Linked DNA regions of Homo sapiens. The protein of the gene in region 3 interacts with the protein of the main gene of each other region in a pairwise test. Each region holds a gene or a part of one and is shown on either strand. Other genes may lie near its edges. The genes, in order: KLHL41, CAPN3, MYBPC1 and ANKRD1.

Region 1 (4,634 bases), on a different chromosome or scaffold from region 3:
GCCACGTTTCTCTAGATCGGCGGCCTTCAACTTTAACACACATCTAAGTCACCTGGAGGGTTTGTGCAAACACAGATCGCTGGCCCTATCACCCCCAGAGTTTCTAATTTAACAGATTTGAAGTGAGACCTGAGAATCTGCCTTTCTGATAAGTACCCAGGTGAGGCTGATGCTGCTTTGGGAACCACTGTAGTAGATTACAGGTTCTCAAACTTAATTGCCAATAGAACCAGCTGGAGATGTTAAAGATACTGATGCCTAGGTCCTACTCTCAGAGATTGAGTTAATTGGTATGAAGGGTGGCCTGGGCATCAGGATTTTTTAAAGCTCCCCAAGTGTTTCTAATATGCAGCAAAGTTTGAGAATCATGCTCCAGATCCTACCCCAAATTAGGAAATACCAGTCTCAAAATAGCCAAGCAGATAGTGATGAATGCCCCCCTCTTCTCTTTACCCAATCCAGTGGTTCCCAAACTTGTCTACACATATAGAAACATCCATGGATCTTTTAAAATTTCCAAAGCCCAGGCCATACTTCAGACCAATTAAATTGCAGTCAATATAAGTGGGATAGAGGTGTTAATATTTTTTGAAGCACCCTGGTGATTCGAACGTGCAGGCAACTTTGGGAACCACTGCTCTAATCGCAAAATAAACCACAATCAGAGAGGATCCCTCTTTTAGGTTCCCTAAACAATGTCAGGGCCACTTTTATAGCAGGAGATTCTGTACTTTCTTTTGCTGCCTGTAACTGTTCCCTGCAGGGGCAGCATGGCTTTTGATAACCCTTAGGAACCAGGAGGGCTTCAGGGAGGTCCCACTGATTGACAGCACAATTACTTAATATCAGTGTTTCTCAACCCTGGCTGCTGATTAGAATCATCTGGGGCTGGGCTCGGTGGCTGACGCCTGTAATCCCAGCACTGTGGGAGGCTGAGGTGGGTGGATCACCTGAGGTCAGGAGTTCAAGACCAGCCTGGCCAATATGGTGAAACCCCATCTCTACTAAAAATACAAAAATTAGCCGGGCATGGTGGTGCACACCTGTAGTCCCAGCTGCTCCAGAGCCTGAGGCAGGAGAATCGCTTGAACCCAGGAGCTGGAGGTTGCAATGAGCCAAGATCACATCACTGCACTACAGCCTGGGTGACAGAGTGAGACTCTGTCTCACCAAAAAAAAAAAAAAAAAAAAAAAAAAAAAAAATCACTGGGAAGGTTTTAGGAACTAGGGATGCTCAACTCTACCTCCAGAAATTTTGATATAATTGGTCTGTGTTAAGGCCCAGACACTGGTATATTTTAAAAGCATCCCAGATGATTGTAACATACAGCTAGGGTTGAGAATCACTGCCCATTTATATATTTGGTACCTGGCCCTGTTTTCCAAAAAACCCTAACCTTCCCGGCCTTCATTAGTTCATCCTTTTTTCCTACTGCTTCCAGCTTTTCCCCATCTCACTGTTTTGCTAATTCTAGCCTCTTTGCTCCGTGGAAATCTCATTTTTTTTCTCTTTCTCCCTCTTTTTTGGGGGGAGGAGGGAAAGTAGTTAATTTCCTTGCATAGCCACTTTTTTTCTTGCCCTCTACACAGCTAGTTAATATTACAACATGGGGAAATGATGTCTAATGCACAAATCATTGTTTGGTTAAGGTACCAGCTTTTCAGCCTTTTTAGTTCAGCATCTGGGAATAAAGCATCTGCTGGTTAAGGTATAGAACAAATAATACCCACTTTTCACTCTCAGGCTTAGTGGTATGCCTTCACTGATTAAGTATAAATGGCACTCTTCCAAAGCTGTACTTATAAACTTAAATGTGCAAACAATTCACCTAAGAATCTTGTTAAAAAATACAGATTCTCATTCAGTAGGGTCTGGGATTCTGTGTTTCTTTTTTCTTTTTTTTTTTTTCTTTTAAGACTCGCTCTGTAGCTGAGGCTGGAGTGCAGTGGCGCGATCTCAGTTCAAAATAAAATAAAAACAAACTTTTTTTTTAATAGCCTCACTAAAATGTTCAATTGAGTAACAGTTTCAAGTGTCATACTTAGGAGAACTGCCTGGCACCTCCAGGCAGGTAAAATGGATTGCTATTTTGACTTTTTTCATTTTAAAAAAGCATTTATTAGCTGAAGCCTAAAACAATTGGAAAGCTGTTTAAATTAGATTGAAAACAGAACTAATGAAGTAGTGGAAAGCTCAAGAGGTTAAATGTTTCTTTAGGCTGGGTACGTGGCTCACGCCTGTAATCCTAGCACTTTGGGAGATTGAGGCGGGTGGATCACCTGAGGTCAGGAGTTCGAGACCAGCCTGGCCAACATGGCGAAATGCCGTCTCTACTAAAAATATAAAAATTAGCTGGGCGTGGTGGATATGCCTGTAATCCCAGCTACTCGGGAGGCTGAGGCAGGAGAATCACTTGAACCTGGGAGGCCGAGGTTGCAGTGAGCTGAGATCCCGCCATTGTACTCCAGCCTGGGTGACAGAAACTCTGTCTCAAAAAAATAAAAATAAAAAAGTAAAAAACATAAAATTTTTTTTAGAACTCTGTTTTGTTAGGAAATAAACTACTCTGGAGCAAAGAGGCTTTCACTCTACTGGATGCCTATAGCATTATACTCTTAGAGCTGGAATGAAACTGAGAGTATCAAAGGTCCAACTCTCATTTTACAGTAAGAAACAGGCCTGCCCAGATGATTTCTTTCTCAGGCTCAGAGCTAACTAGAAGTAGATACTTGTTCAAGTAAGTGGCATGTACAGAAGTTCAATTAGGTTTGAAGTGTTTAGTCTACTACCAAGAAGTAGCTTGCATGTTGGGAAAATCTGGCTTATTGTTTACTACAAAATAGTTTATCAGTCATCTGATTTAATATGTGATTCTGAAAATTGAAGTGATGAGAACTTACTTCCATATGTCATTGACTTCAGTGGGTGCAAATTCTTTAGACTCCAGTTGAATCATAGCAAAACCACCAATTGCATACAGAGATCCAGCCAGGCTGACCAAACTGATGGAGCTTCTTTCTTGGGGAAATTCGGTCATTACATCCCATCTAGGTATCATTAAAAATATAGTCAATGTAAAACTTAAAGAAATGCCAGATGTACTTACTGAATAATTATAGGAAATAATAATTTAAAAATTCAAGTAGTGGCCAGGCAGCCAGGCGCGGTGGCTCATGCCGGTAATCCCAGCACTTTGGGAGGCTGAGACGGGTAGATCACCTGAGGTCAGGAGTTTGAGACCAGCCTGACCAACATGGTGAAACCCCACCTCTACCAAAAATACAAAAAATTAGCCAGGCACGGTGGCGCGCACTTGTAATTTCAGCTATTTGGGAGGCTGTGGCAGGAGAATCACTTGAACCTGGGAGGCGGAGGTTGCAGTGAGCTGAGATTGTGCAACTGTACTCCAGCCTGGGCAACAGAGCGAGACTCCATCTAAATAAAAAATAAATATTCAAGTAGCGGCTGGGTTCGGTGGCTCATGCCCGTAATCCCAGCACTTTGGGAGACTGAGGCAGGAGGATTGCTTGAGCCCAAGGAGTATGCGACCAGCCTGGGCAACAAAATGGACTGCCTCCACACACACACACACACATACACACACACACACACACACACACACACACACACACTGAGGCAGGAGGATAGCTTGAGCCCAAGGAGTATGAGACCAGCCTGGGCAACAAAATGGACTGTCTACACACACACACACACACACACACACACACACACACACACACACACACACACACACAGAGCTAGGCCTGGTGGTATGTCCCTATAGTCCCAGCTACTTGGGAGGATCTCTTGAGCCCTTGAGGTCAAGGCTGCGGTGAGCTATGATCGCATTGCTGCATTCCAGCCTGGGTGATAGAGCAAAACCCTGTCTTTAAGGGGGGAAAAAAAAATTCAAGGAGCACAGGCATCTAAAAGTAAATGACTAAGTTTGCTACTAGAAAATATTTGAAAGATGTAACTTCATTAAATATAAAGCCTTCAATATGGCAACCCTAAGGCCGGGCACGGTGGCTCATGCCTGTAATCCTAGCACTTTGGCAGGCCTAGGTGGGTGGATCACCTGAGGTAAGGAGTTCGAGACCAGCCTGACCAACATGGTGAAACCCCATCTCTACTAAAAATACAAAAAATTAGCCGATTTTTTTCTAATTATAAAAATAATATATGTACATTATAGAAAATCTGTACTCCAGCCTGTGTGACACAGTGAGACCCTGTCTCAAAAAAAAAAAAAAAAAGTTTGAGAAAATCTGGAAAGTACAGAAAGGTATACAAGAGAGCAGATATCTCCATAATCATACCTTACAGACATAATCACAAGCAACAATTTGGTGTAATTTTGTCATCTTTTTAAAAAGCATGTACATTTAAGCTTCCATACATATAAATGAAACTAAGAAGATATTTACAATTTTTGTGTGTTGCTTCTTAACTTACATCATGAGTGTTTACCCACATTACAGTCTTCGAAAACATTATTTTTAATGATAATTTAAATAGTGTTCCACAAAAGTTCCTTGTAATTTTCAGATACTAAAGTCTGTTTTGTAGTCAGGCATACATGTTTCTAAAAAAAGTAATAATATTTCTCTTTTTTCTTCATTGCTAAACTAGG
Region 2 (5,309 bases), on a different chromosome or scaffold from region 3:
TACTTGATGGTCGAAAAAAAATTCAGATTGGTTTCCAAAGGTTCTGTGCCTTAGACAGTAAAAGCAGGAAGGCCTTTACTCACCTGTGTGGTGCTTCTCCTGATAGGACACAGTCTTTTCAGACTGCATAGGGCTGGCAAAGGTCACTACATCTGAAGAAGTTTATGGAGAACTGATGTCTCCAAGAAGTGCTTTACAGTCAGAAAGTTCTGGAGTCATTTCAGTTTTTCAGTTCCAAGTCAACTTGTGTGGCTGTAGATAAGTCATTTGCCCTTTCTGGGCCTTAATCACCTATAAAGCAAGGACACTGGAGCACCTCTCCAAGAATCATTCCAACTCTGACCATCTCTAATTTTATATTTCTCATTTATGCTAGTGAACCCAATGGGCAGTGTTCCTGTGATCTTAACCCCAGGGGAACATGTGGGCATTTTATCCAAGAGTGGCCTTTGTTATCTGGTCCTTTAGTGACTCAAACAGTGGAAAATCCAGGATCTTTGTTGTTGGTGATGGTGGTGGTGGGGGCACAATTTAGAACAGACAAGTCTTCTGCACCCCTCATTTCAAACATGGACACTGCCCAATCTAGTACCTAGAGCATAACAGGCCCTTAAAGAATTTTTATTAATTTGTAAGTCTCGCTTGAAGACTCAAGTCCACCAATGATTTCACTGAAAACAGTATTTGTAGGTTTTAATTTTCCCCATTCTGAGAAAGAGCTTTTATTTTTTTAAACTTTTTTTATAGAGATAGGGTCTCACTATGTTGCCCAGGCTGGTCTCCAACTCCTGAGCTCAATTGATGCTCCCACCTCTGCCTCCCAAAGTGCTAGGATTACAGGCATGAGCCTCCATGTCTGGCCCAAGAAAGGGCTTTTAGGAACTCCCTGCCTGGGAACGCAGGCCTATCCTGTCTCACTGGTCAAGGCCCTTGGGCGTGGGTTTTCACTCACCAGCATCAGCTGAGTACCCACTATGGGACTGGCCTGAGCTTGGTGAGGGGGCCTCAAAGATGAACAGGAAGGATTTCTGCTCTCAGTGAGAGGAAATCAGTCATGAGAAAGATTGAAGGAAGTGACACCTGAGCAGAGGTTCAGATAGGAACAAAAAAGGCATGTCAGGCAGACAGACAGCATGAGCAAAGGCCTCCGGTGTGAGAAGACTTGGAACTACAGAGCAGCTAAATGTCCAAGCACTGCTGGTGTGTCAGGATCTGGGGAAAGAGGATGGACATGGGCCTGGACAGGTAGGCAGGGACCAGCTGAGAAGGGCCTATGGCTTGGCTAAGGAGTTTGGACTTGTCCTGAAGGCAGTGGGGGCCGAGAGAGGGATGTCACTGAAGATATTTCAGCAGGGGGTTGTGACATGTCCAACTACTCTGATAGCAGAGTAGTGTTATCTTCTAAACTGAAGGCCTTCAGGACAGTTATGGGCCTTACCATAGAACCAAGAAGAGCCCCTATGGAATATACAGGGTTGTCTAGTACTCCACCTCAGGTTTGTTGTTGTTATTGTTGTTGTTTGAGACTGGGTCTCACTCCTGTCACCCAGCCTGGAGTGCAGTGGCATGATCTCGGCTCACTGCTGCCTCAACTCCCCGAGTTCAAGTGATCTTCCCACCTCAGCCTCTGAGTAGCTAGGACCACAGGCATGTGCCACCATGCCTGGATAATTTTTTGAATTTTTAGTACAAAAGAGATAGGTTTTCACCCTGTTGCCCAGGCTGGTCTCTAACTCTTGGGCTCAAGCAATCCTCCAGCCTGGGCCTTCCAAAATGCTGGGTTTATAGGCATGAGCCACCATGCCTGGCCCACCTTAGGTTAAAGAAAACCATGGCTAATCAATAGTATTGGGTCTCAGCTTGTCATCATTTCCTCAGAGAGGGTTTGTCTCCCTGGACCAGGTTAGCTCTCCTTGCCACATGATCCTGTGGCACCCAGAACATCGTCTCCTGACAATGTCACTCTTGTTCAATGCCCATCTTCCCTTCAGGACCCTAGGTTCCAAGACAGCTGGAATTTTGGTCTTTCTTACTCACTGCTGTCCCCCCAGTTGCTTGCCCAGTGCTGGCACTAGTAGATGCTCAATAAATATTTCTCGAATTAAGAACAAGAGTCACACTGGAGGGATGATCAGAGAGGTGAGCCAGGGGAATGTGATTTCCCTCCTGGCGATCACTGTAAATGAAACCCAGAGGCTGGGAGAGTTTCCTAAAACAGAAAGTTTTAATCCGGGCTCTGTCATGTGCCCACTAGATATATTTCACTCTAGTGTGCCTTGACTCCTCACTTATGAGGTGAGGTAGGTGGACAAAAGCGATTGCTAGGTCTCTCTCTCTTTAACCCCAACATTTTATGCATGAAAAAATATTCCTTGCCTATGACTCTTCTCTTTCTAGGGTTTCTGTGTTTCAGAAAGATATGGCCATTGGTAAATTAAAGAAGAATAACATCATGATTTTAGCCAGAGAAACTGAAATAATCTTACAAAGATGAATAATATTTAAAACGAACAGGTACATCTGGGCTGTCTGGAATTTGTTCTGAGAAAGGAATATTTATTTTTACAGGATGAATTAAACTGAGTTCCACCCACTTTTATAAAAAGCAAGATTTTTTTTTTTTTTTCAGAGAGAAAGAGCCAGAGCATAAGAATCAGCCCCACCTCCTGCGCTCTCCCTCTGGATTTTGCTGAGATTTGGTGAAATATCTGAGACCTGTTCCTCTCCTCCCTGCTTCACACTTAAAGACAGAGCCCAGCAGAGCTGCTGCCAGGATCCTTCCCCCAGTGCCCATGTGCACAGCTGAGCTGCCGGAGGTGCTGAGTGAGAGGACTCCTCCGTGGGGGGAAAACCCAGCCAGCAAGCAGGAAGCTACTCACCGGAGGTCTCTTCCAGACGAACTGGATGGGGAACTTCTGGCTATAAAAGAGAGAGGTCTCATCCGGTGGGAACTCAGGGTCCACATAAAGAACTTTCTTTTCTAGACATTTCTTGTGAAGTTGCTCGAATGTCTTCTCTTTCACTCCGATAATAGGAAAATTGCGGCTGATGATGGCTGAATAGATGCCACTTGGGTTTCCACCCCCAGCCTCAGTGGCCTTGCTCTGGGCCGGGTGAGGAACTGGCCCTGGGGACCGGGGCTCAGCCGCTGTCCTTGGAGCCACAGATGCGCTAATGACGGTCGGCATGGCAAGTGGCTTTGGAAGAAAAAGCTTTTTAAAGAAAATAAGATACAGCTACCTTCAAGGAAAGGAAGCAACTGCAAAGGGGAAGTTGGAGTAATTCTGTCATCTGAGAGAAAAGTGTCCACATCCAGTTCAAAGTTGAAAGCCCATCAGAAGGTCGTACAGGTTATGTCCATCTTAAAAACCGAGCTGTGATTCTGAAGCCATAAGTTCTCCTGAGAAATGAGTGCTAAAGGATTTCTGAAGCAATGTTGACTTGGGGGTCTCCTACCAGCAGCATGCATGCCAGAGGGAGAGAGAAAGAGAGTGAGGGTTGTGTTTCAGTGGCCTGAAGATGCTTGAGCCAGGAAAACTAAAAATAGATGTGAAGAAACACTGTGAGTATGAGAGCAAGAGAGACTGCATGGTAGAGAGAGAACCTGGCTAGGGACATTTCTGTTGCCATGAAGTGCTGGTGTTGCCAGAAAATGAAAAGGGAGTATCTGAGTAAGGTGAACACTGGAAAGAAGCTGAGAACTGCTGACATGTTATTGAGTAGGCAGTTATACAGACCACCCAACTACTGGCCATCAAATGAATGGAAAACAATATTGCAAAAAAGCTAGTTAGGGTGAACGGGAGGTACTGAATTCTACAAAAATATTCTGTGAATTTTAGAGAACATGATTTTTAGTCCTAAAATTTTAGGATATCAGAACATTATTCAATGTTAGATTTGGTATCTTTTTTAGAATGTTCTTGGGTCAGCGCTCATTGGAAATGTCTGCATGGAAAATGCTACTCAGCAGAGTCCTCATTTGAGAAAATCCCTGTCTCTACCTGCACACTTGACCTTGCCACCTCTTGTCTCTCCCCATCCACAAAATGAACACTGGGACTGAATCTGCTAAAAAGTGGTCCTGCTGGGCCATGTGGCTCACGTCTCTAATCTCTGCACTTTGGGAGGCCGAGGCGGGTGGATCACATGAGGTCAGGAGTTCGAGACCAGCATGGCCAACAATAGTGAAACCCTGTCTCTACTAAAAATACAAAAATAAGCCGGGTGTGGCGGCGGGTGCCTGTAATCCCAGCTACTTGGGAGGCTGAGACAGAAGAATTGCTTGAACCCAGGAGGCAGAGGTTGTAGTGAACCCAGATCACGCCACTGCACTCCAGCCCAGGTGACAGAAAGAGACTCCGTCTTAAAAAAAAAAAAAAGTGCACCTGAGCAGAGAAAATCCTCACTTAACATCATCGATAGGTTCTCGTAAGCTGTGACTTTAAGCAAAATGATGTACTGTATAGTGAAACCAGGCTAACTGATATAAACAAGAGTTAAGTCCCTACAGCACACGGTATGTTTTCGTTAAAGTCACAGTTTACAAGCACCTATCAATGATGTTAAGTGAGGACTTACTGTACAGGTTATATGTTGACTCATTCAGCCATGCCACATTAGGCATCTGAGACAGAAGTTGGAATTAGATACTGAACCAGACTGTCTGTCAACTCCTGGGATGTCACACCTGGTTTCAGGGCTCTTAGATGAGAGCATAAGTGGCTCTGGGGAAGGGAAGTGCCTGCCTGGCCTCCACCTTGTCTTCTACCCACAATAGCTGCTCCCTGGGCTGTAAGGAGATGAGCACATTTCAAGTATGGCAGAGTGGAGGCATGTCCTAGGCTGCAGTCATGCCTGTTCCCATGCGACCAGTCTCAATAATCCAAGATTAGAGGCTATGGAAGAAGGTGGGAAGTGACAGGTAAAATAGGGAGTACTATCAGCCTCCTGATCCCTGGGATTGCGGCTTTGAAGGACTCTATGTCTGGGCTTGCAGGAACCATCAGCCTAGCCATCTGTCCCTCCAAGAAAATGCCCAGGGCTTTTTACTAGTCTTGGAGAGGCAGAATAGAGGACAGTGGTCTCTGGTGACTGACCACCTCGGTTCAAAGTCTAGGTTGGCCCCTTATTGGCTGTGCCTGTGTAACTTTAGGTGAGTTATTTCTTCCTTTCTGTCTCAGATTTCTCACCTATAAAATAGGTACAATTACAGTCATTCTGTTATTAGGTTTTGGTAACAATTAAATAATTTATGTAATACATTTTACACAGTGCCAGGATTTTCTTAAGCACTCAATAAATGGTGT
Region 3 (4,634 bases):
TAAGTATGGAAATTTTAATTTCATGTGTGTACCTGAGAGCATGTGGCCACATCTTCTTTGTTATTATTCCATGTTAGTTCTTGATGGAAACAGATGTCTTTTCTGGAATCCATGGTTTGTTCAAAGTACTGCATCCTGGGGAAACTGAATAAATACACAGAAAGGTAGTAGCTGAATTAGTGTTCTGAGTTAGGTTAATCATGAAGTAGCTACTGTTTATTCATGAGGGGTTTCCTAAAATTTGAGAGCATACCAGTTAAGGAAAGCCAAACTGTGAAAAAGAAGAAAAGACTTTGTCACTTAATTTTCTACATGTATGCAAATTATCTCATAACTGGATAAGAAGAGGGCTTCTGTCCTTGCAGCTTTTTACAAAGACAGCCCCCCCAAAGTCAAAGTGATCATACTGTCTTGTCGTAATTCTGCTCTGTGTGGATAGGCTCAGTTTTAATTTACAAAGAGTATGTTTGTTTTAGACAGCCCAAAGATGGACCACAGGCCAAATTTCAAGATGTTCCCATTCATGGGACAGAGTATTTATGGGCTTTAACGTACATTTTCAGAGTAAACTTTTAGGTCCCATCAGATTGGGGCATGAATTGATTGATTTGGCAGAGGCGGAGACCAGAATCATTCAATCTCACACTTATTTCTCTTTCTATAATGAGTTCACAAAAAGCTAACTGTAATCTGACTTTCATTATGCCTTTCAAGTCTAAATCCACTTTGATAAGACTTGCCCTTTTATACTCCCTTAGGAATCCTTTTTAGGCCAATTTGGCACATCAGGGCAGCGTCTAAAATTACATTTAATAATATGTCAAATGTTAGATCTTATGATTTTGTTCTATTCTTTTTTTTTGATGTGTATTTAGCTATTTTGGTAAGTATTCTTCTTCTCTAAAATTGTCCAAATCTTTCCTAAATACTCTTTATAAATTGCTTTGCTTGCATCTGGTGATATCGTTTGCCTTCTAAAAATTTTAATGAATCTTGGAACAGAATGCTCTACTTAAAACTCAAAATGTGTCCTTTTTAATTCTACATTTTGTCATGTTTAGAGTTAGATGTCTTTAGGGTTGTTATGCACACAGTATGTGTCTTGGCTTTTTCTTTATGCATCTTAAATATTATGCATTATTAAACATGGTGACATAAAAAAAATTATACTATTTGTAGAACATTCTAGACAGCTCAAATTCCAGCTGCACCATAGACTGAATTACTTACACTTTGTATGCCTCTGTTTCCTCATCTGTATGTGAATAAAACAGTATCAACTCTTTGGGTCTCAGTAAGAATTAACTGAAATACACCAGGTAAAGTGCTTATTTTATCTTATTTTATTTTTTATTTGAGATGGAGTCTTGCTCTGTCGCCCAGGTCAGAGTGCAGTGGCATGATCTCGGCTCACTGCAACCTTCACCTCCCTGGTTCAAGCAATTCTCCTACCTCAGCCTCCTGAGTAGCTGGGGTTACAGGCATGCGCCACCACGCCCAGCTAATTTTTGTATTTTTTTGGTAGAGATAGGGTTTCAACATATTGGCCAGGCTGGTCTCAAACTCCTGACCTCAAGTGATCCACCTGCCTCGGCCTCCCAAAGTGCTGGGATTACAGGCATGAGCCACCATGCCCGGACAGGTAAAGTGCTTAGAACAGGGCCTAACATATGGAAAGATTTCAAGCATTTTCCTCCTAAAGCAGTAAACTCAGAAATCTTGTCTGGCACAAGGTATTAAATGCCTCATATTTCACATAAACTGATGGCATTTCCCTCAACATAAGGGATGTAACAACCACTGCTCACCTCCTCACTAGTGTAATATTTATAATACACGCCAAGAAAGCTGCTATGATAGTCATAACCATCATTCCCACCACTATATTTCCTTCTTTTACTTGTGGTGATACATCTTCGCTTTCACCCATAGAAGCTCAGATCAAATAAAAGGTCTATACTCCATGACCTCTGTTGTGTTCTTACTGAAATGAGCCATGTCCAATTCGGGGGTCTGTAGTTGTCAGCATAAGGTGATAACGGTTGGGTTGTTTCTTCACTGTTCTTGTGGGGACATGGCCTTTCCCACTTAGATGAAAGAGTTACCCTACAGAGTTGAACAATATCTATGTCTGTCTCCAAGGGTTATAAGTCTTGGGTTTGTGGGACTTTACAATTTCTCTCCCTGGCCAGGCGTGGTGGCTCATGCCTATAATCCCAGCACTTTGGGAGGCTGAGGTGGGAGGATCACCTGAGGTCGGGAGTTTGAGACCAGCCTGACCAACATGGAAAAACCCCATCTCTACTAAAAATACAAAATTAGCAGGGCATGGTGGCGCATGCCTGTAATCCCAGCTACTCAGGAGGCTGAGGCAGGAGAATCACTTGAACCTGGGAGAACGGAGGTTGTGGTGAGCCAAGATCGCGCCATTGCACTCCAACCTGGGCAACAAGAGTGAAACTCCGTCTCAAAAAAAAAAAAAAGAAGATTTCTCTCTCTTATCAGGGGTGCTTTTTGGTGGATAGGGTCTTCCTCAGTCTGCGCTTTCCTGAGATGACCACATAAAGAACTCTCCATGACCACATATGGATGTGGTGGGTGATTGATTGAGTGTCACTGTGTTTATTGCGGTGGAATTTTATTTTTATGACCCCACCTGGCGTCAGGACTCTTCTTCCTCTATTTTTAAAAAGTCACCCAATGTGAGGTCCAGCAACAGTTTGGAGCAAGGCCTTTAAGAAATTTATCCTATAACCCTATAGCCACATAAATAAGTGATACAAGATCAGGTACAATGGCTCATGCCTGTAATCCCAGCATTTTGGGAGGCCAAGGCCAGAGAATTGCTTAAGCCCAGGGGTTTGAGACCAGCCCAAGCAACATGGTGAAACAGCATGAAAAAATACAAAAATTATCTGGATGTGGTGGTGTACACCTGTAGTCCCAGCTACTTGGGAGGCTGAAGCAGGAGATTCACTTGAGCCCAGGAGGCTGCAATGAGCCATGATCATGCCACTGCACTCCTGCCTGGGTGGCAGAGTGAGACTCTGTCTCAAAATAATAATAACAATAATAACTGATTCAAGATCCCCAAAAAAGACACAGTAAAGGAGGAAACTGTTAACAATTCAAATTGCTTTTGCAATAATTTCTTTTTGACCTATGCTAAAATTTTAAGCTCCTTCAATCTGAGTAAATCTTCCCCTGCAAAACACACCCCATTTGATTCTTTAAAACATGGTAAGAGTAGTGAGGAAGGCAAGTCCTCAGATCTTAGCAATTTTCCCCCAGCCCCATGTTAACAATGAGAAGCTATTTGTTGCTATGTAATAAGGACCATATTTTAATCCTCTTCCTGTGTGAAATGACATCCTGAGATGAAACTTGCATAATTAGAAGGACAAAAGAATGAATTGACTAGGGGAGGAAAAAAAACCCTGTAGATTCAGGGAAATTCCAAAGGTTGAATAATGAGTCATTGAATATTTACATGATCAAGGTACAATTAGACTTCATCTATTCAGAACATTAGAGTACAGTACAGTCTTTGGCAACATTCGACCATAGTAAATAAATATGGATTAAATTGATTGAATCATTCTGAATAGCTGGATTCTCTGCACAGCTAAAGGTTAATTTTGTTATATAACCTCAGAGCCTTATTTTTTCCACCAGTTTGAATAGAAACATTCTTAAAATGTAATATATTACTCCTTGCTTTAAAAAATAAAGTACAGTGGATATAATTTGTCTTAAATTATAGATATCAGTTATTAGTAGCATGTGACACCCTGAGGGCCCAAATTATTTGCTCTTTTGAAAAATGGACTCATATTGATTTGTATTTTGAATTTCTTTCCAATTTTTCTTAGCTTTCCTACTTTATCCCTCCTAGAAGTGTGCTGTCTTCTTTAGTACTCTTGTCAGTCAGCATATGAAACTGTTCCCCTCACTCCCCTTTGTCCTTTATTATAGACGCCATTCCAGGTAATTAATCTGGCTGAGTAGAGTTTAGCACCACCTAAGGCACAACATTTAAGAAGGCACTGACTTTCTGGGTCACCAAAATGCAGGTTCAGCCCCTTAAGTGACCTCCTTAAATTTTGCTCCTCAGGCACCCTGCTTACCTTTCCCAAGTCCCAGGCCCTGGGTTTACTGAGGAGCTAGGGCCTTCTTCCATGAGGAAAACACAGAAACTCTTAGTGCCTGGAACGTAGGAGCTTGAGATAAATGCAGAGGCCCTTCAGAGGCCCTTTTATTTGGGTGGTCAGAAGCTGTTAGGTAAGTTGCTAGATAGCTGAATTCTGCATAGGGTAGGTGTTACTAGACACTATTGCCCTTTTGTCTCTATTATGGTGCACTTAGGAAAATGAGTTATTGCTTCAAAATCAATGTAAGGTTTTTATTTTGACTGATTCATTCATTTTATCAAAGCTGCAGATGTATATGATATATATGACCTGAGTTTGTTTTAAAAATAACATGCACAAAATCTTTTTCCAAAGAGATTTGCAATAAATTCAAAACCAGTGGTTCAAACCTTTTGGTCTCAGATCCCTTTGCACCCTTAACAATTATTGAATAAACTAAAGATCATTTGTTTATGTGCATAACTAGTGTATTATACACACTAA
Region 4 (4,380 bases), on a different chromosome or scaffold from region 3:
AGCTCTAATAGTTCATTAGCCCATTCAAATAAAGCCAATTTATCAGAAATCACTAATCTTTTTGTATTCTTTCCCCCATGAAGTGAAATTGGGGACCGCTTCTGAAGTTGAACTAAAAACATGTCTCCCATTCTCCTAAAAATGAATGGAAACTTTTTGATAGTCTAGCAACAGTCCCAGATGCAAGAAAGCTGTCTGATCTGCATGGTAATGCTACATGAACAAGGAAGGTGCAAGATAGAAGAAACGGAGATGTCAGCATTTAGATAGTTTTGAGCCTTTAAGTTCACACTCCTCAACGTAGGCCTTTGAGCCCTTGGAAATGTATATTGGAGGAAGCTCAAATATTAGTTGCAGGATAATTGTTCTGATTCTGCAATTTTAGTTAACTTTGACATTTCTATTCATAAAGAAGCACTTGAGTTTCTATCAGTTAGGTCATCAGAATCTCCAGCTTCATAGCTCTTAAAAGGGTTTACACACATTTTTATATTTATTGCTATCTCTGTTTAAAATCTCTGTTCTGATAGTATAAACGGACAGCTCTTCATAGAGCATGCTTGGAAGGACATTTGGCAATTGTGGAGAAGTTAATGGAAGCTGGAGCCCAGATCGAATTCCGTGATATGGTAAATATATTTCTTTGCTTGGGAATGAGCCAAAAGAAGTAGACTATATGAAGCTCCGGAAAACCTCCAATGCAAAACCGAGCTGATTGGATTGAAAATTGATCTGAGAGAACTAGGCAAAAGCTCATTTCTCCAAATAAAGGAAAGTTGGGAGATGAGAGTAGGTCATGTGAAAATATTTTCCATACATACTGAAAATAGAGGAATATTTCAGGGAAAAGAAGGAAGTGAAAGCTGTTAAACTGAATTCAATATCCTCATCAGCGAGTTAGTCATTCATTTTCGACACTTGCCTTTCAACAGCCTTGTCCCTCCATTGTTCACAGGGCAGCCTGCTTATGGTTGGCTGCCAGCAACATATACGAATTCTCTAGCTGCACACTTTATATGATAGATGCCAATTGCTACCAATGAGATTTGGGGCTAGACTGCATATGAAATGAATTGCATCTATGGAAAGTAGCTGCTATTCAGACCTCAATAATTCAATCACTGTGATTTCTACGAAGACCAGTATGCAGCATAATTTATGAACTGAAGATTGAGCTGGGAAAATTCTTTATGTATTTAAATGCAGCTCATTTTGACTTTATAGCAAAGCGGCAACGGGATATCAAAGAAATCCAAGGGACTTGGCCAAAATTGAATCCAAAACATAAACACATTGAAAAAAAAATCAAGAAACAAAATATGAAGTTTGCATGGAAACTAAAAATCATGAGTGTGGGATTAAGGCCAGGGGCATACCAACCACATAGATCAGTGAGGAGAGGGTCTCCTAGGGGTAACTATACACGTTACAACTGTAGACACAAGTGACTACAGTTGAGGTACAGAGGCTGTGCTAGCAAAAATGAGCAGAAAACCCACAGAAGTAGAGAAAGAGCGACAGGGACCCTAGATGAGGTGTCAGATCCAGATTAAAATATTTTGGAAGGGACTACTTTTATTCTGCCAAAATTTTTAAATACATGTGTTTAGAACTTTTGTGTACATTTGACAAAAGAAGTTAGAAGTTCCAGGCAGAGGGGAGTTTGACTGTGTATTCTGCCTCTTATTAGTTGTGTTTCCTTGGGCTAGAAACTTGAACTTTTTGGAACCTGGTTTTTCTTATCTGCAAAATGTGCATAGCAACACCTACCTCAAAATGTTGCTGGAAGAATCAAGGTGTCTAAAGTGTAGCACCATGTTGGCATGAGAAATGTCTCAATAAGTGGCCATTCTTATTCTTTTAAAACATTATTAGATTTATTAAGAGCCTCCTAATAAGACACACATATGCACACACACACACACACACATGTAATTTAGCTAACACATTTGGTAAGAACCTTCGACTCCAGTTAGAATTGTCAATCTAGATGGGGACAACTCATTATTTTCACGGATGCCCTAGCAACCAGGTTCTAATTCCCCAGACCACATTCTCCTTCACATTGTCGGGTCTTCCCTCCCGGTATAGCTTGAATCCACAGCCATCCACTGGGCAAGCCGTGGAGGAAACCTGGATGTTTTAAAATTGTTGCTGAATAAAGGAGCAAAAATTAGCGCCCGAGATAAGGTATTCCTTCTTCTCCTTCTCCCTTCATTCACCCCCTCCCCCTCCCTGTCCCCCATCCTTCTCCACTTCTCCCACTCTTCCCCCTCCCCCTCCTCCTTCTCCCCCACCCGCCCTTCCCTCCTCCCCCACCCCTCCATCTCCTAACCTCGCCTCTCCATTAAAGTCATCTGGAGGCCCATGCTGTGTGCAGGCACCCTAGTGACCACTTCTCCCCCTCGCACATGTCTTGGGGTCTGGGACAGCCTCTGTCCTCATTCCTAGCGAATCAGCAGCGTTTTCCAATTTTCCAGTTGCTCAGCACAGCGCTGCATGTGGCGGTGAGGACTGGCCACTATGAGTGCGCGGAGCATCTTATCGCCTGTGAGGCAGACCTCAACGCCAAAGACAGAGTGAGTAGCTGGACACGCTCGGGTTTCCCAAAGCTTCATTGCTTTTGTATTTGGAATCACTCCCCCAAGCCTGGGTGCCCTTGCAGGACCCACTTCCTGGCCTCAGACCCACCTTGAACCTGTTGACTCTGCTTCTCTAGGAAGGAGATACCCCGTTGCATGATGCGGTGAGACTGAACCGCTATAAGATGATCCGACTCCTGATTATGTATGGCGCGGATCTCAACATCAAGAACTGTGTAAGTACTGGAAACAAGAAACACCGCTTGCAAGCTTTCCAATTTCCAGGAGCATTTCTTAAATAGGTGAAACGACTCCCACAATGGCAGTATTTGAGGGGTCTTCGATGGTCTAAATGCCCCTGCCCATTTCCCCAAGGACAGTGTTTATCTTGGCTAGGACCCAGTTCACATGGCCAGAGATGAGGGAAGTCATAGATACTGCTATGACCTCAGTGCCTGATACAGTGCATAGTAATTCTTTTACAATTTGGTCTTGGAAATGAAAGATAGTCAAAATTTGCTCATCCCCACAAACACCTAGAAGTCCAATCTGCTTTGGCCATTTCTGTCTGTGCAAGGGCTGAGGAAGTTAGAAATAAAGGCATCCACCATTTCCAAAATGTCCTAAAATTCCACAAGGGTCAGTGCAGCCAGTGAACTAAGGTTAATCAATATCCAATCTGAGTAATTCAGAAAGTCCCTTTCCTCCTTACAGCAATGTGAAATGTCACCATTTTCTTCCAGGGGTAGCTGTGCTTTTGCCTGTATTTTTTTTCAGATAATTTCTATCCATTCTCCACTTGGATTTGTCTTCACATCTCTCAAAATAATTTCCTATATTTAGGCCCTGAAAATTCTTGTATAAGTACATATTAATTTAACTTCATCTGTAAGCAGGGAACATAACCAACTTTTCCTCATGGTCTCAATTTCCAGACAAACACCATCTAATATAAGCTTAAAAAATATTGCCCAGAGGAACAGGTATAAATTTCTGAAGAAATAATTTTAAAGAAGCTTTTGAAGAATCACTTTACAAAAAAGAGTGGGGGGGGGGGGAGGGAAACTCAGTCATCATATAAATGCAAATAATTTTCTCCCCTTATTTGTGTTGCAAAGACTGAGAGGAATATCTTATCTTTTAAAACAAATCTGGCTTGGTGACAGGATCAAAGAATGGTGATAAATGAAGATTGCTTGGGATGGGAAAGTGTTAACAGTAGGGCTTCCTCAGTCTAGATATTGGAATTGATCCTATCTAATATTTTTTTAAACTATCAGAAAAAGAGCAGGTTAAATGAAATCTTGAAAGCTGCAGAAAATGTGAAGATTTTTTTTCAGGCAGTGAGACACTACCAGCAGAGACAAATAGCATACAGGTTTAGGGAGACTGTGTAAGTAGCCAGAAAAATCACAATATAAATTTCAATGGAGAGAAGTGCAAGGAATTTATGGAAGAGTAGCCCAAAATATACAAATACGGCTTAGGGTTCTGAATTATCAGTTAGATATTAGCATCAGGTTTATGGAACTATTAATGTCATTGACCCAATGGATTGATGTTTCCCCCAAAGATCAATAACCTATTGATGCCATCTTAAGGAGATTGGGAGCAGCATACAATATTTTCTCATTATCCAAAACTGTATATTCATGTCTACTGATGATTGTTCCTAGAGAAAGACACTACAGAGGTGGGGAAGTTCCAAAATGAAGGTTATAGGGCCACTAATTTAAATACCTACAGATCTCATAATCTGACTGCAGACTGACCTCACTGTGCCGGGCAGATGGCCTAA

Evidence for each region.
Region 1: the proteins of MYBPC1 (region 3) and KLHL41 interact in a two-hybrid assay, tested with the Homo sapiens proteins (one large-scale study listed by BioGRID and IntAct).
Region 2: the proteins of MYBPC1 (region 3) and CAPN3 interact in a two-hybrid assay, tested with the Homo sapiens proteins (one large-scale study listed by BioGRID and IntAct).
Region 4: the proteins of MYBPC1 (region 3) and ANKRD1 interact in a two-hybrid assay, tested with the Homo sapiens proteins (one large-scale study listed by BioGRID and IntAct).

What each region holds. Positions count from the first base shown.
Region 1 is NC_000002.12:169,519,275-169,523,908, reverse strand, and holds part of KLHL41 (kelch-like protein 41), read right to left. Parts: intron 3,049-4,634; coding exon 2,902-3,048; intron 1-2,901. UniProt on the Homo sapiens protein: Involved in skeletal muscle development and differentiation. Regulates proliferation and differentiation of myoblasts and plays a role in myofibril assembly by promoting lateral fusion of adjacent thin fibrils into mature, wide myofibrils.
Region 2 is NC_000015.10:42,357,685-42,362,993, reverse strand, and holds the start of CAPN3 (calpain-3), read right to left. Parts: upstream 3,494-5,309; 5' UTR 3,189-3,493; coding exon 2,880-3,188; intron 1-2,879. UniProt on the Homo sapiens protein: Calcium-regulated non-lysosomal thiol-protease. Proteolytically cleaves CTBP1 at 'His-409'. Mediates, with UTP25, the proteasome-independent degradation of p53/TP53.
Region 3 is NC_000012.12:101,600,877-101,605,510, forward strand, and holds part of MYBPC1 (myosin-binding protein C, slow-type), read left to right. Parts: intron 1-32; exon of another isoform or gene 33-144; intron 145-4,634. UniProt on the Homo sapiens protein: Thick filament-associated protein located in the crossbridge region of vertebrate striated muscle a bands. Slow skeletal protein that binds to both myosin and actin.
Region 4 is NC_000010.11:90,913,981-90,918,360, reverse strand, and holds part of ANKRD1 (ankyrin repeat domain-containing protein 1), read left to right. Parts: intron 1-530; coding exon 531-629; intron 630-2,091; coding exon 2,092-2,190; intron 2,191-2,480; coding exon 2,481-2,579; intron 2,580-2,719; coding exon 2,720-2,818; intron 2,819-4,380. UniProt on the Homo sapiens protein: May play an important role in endothelial cell activation. May act as a nuclear transcription factor that negatively regulates the expression of cardiac genes. Induction seems to be correlated with apoptotic cell death in hepatoma cells.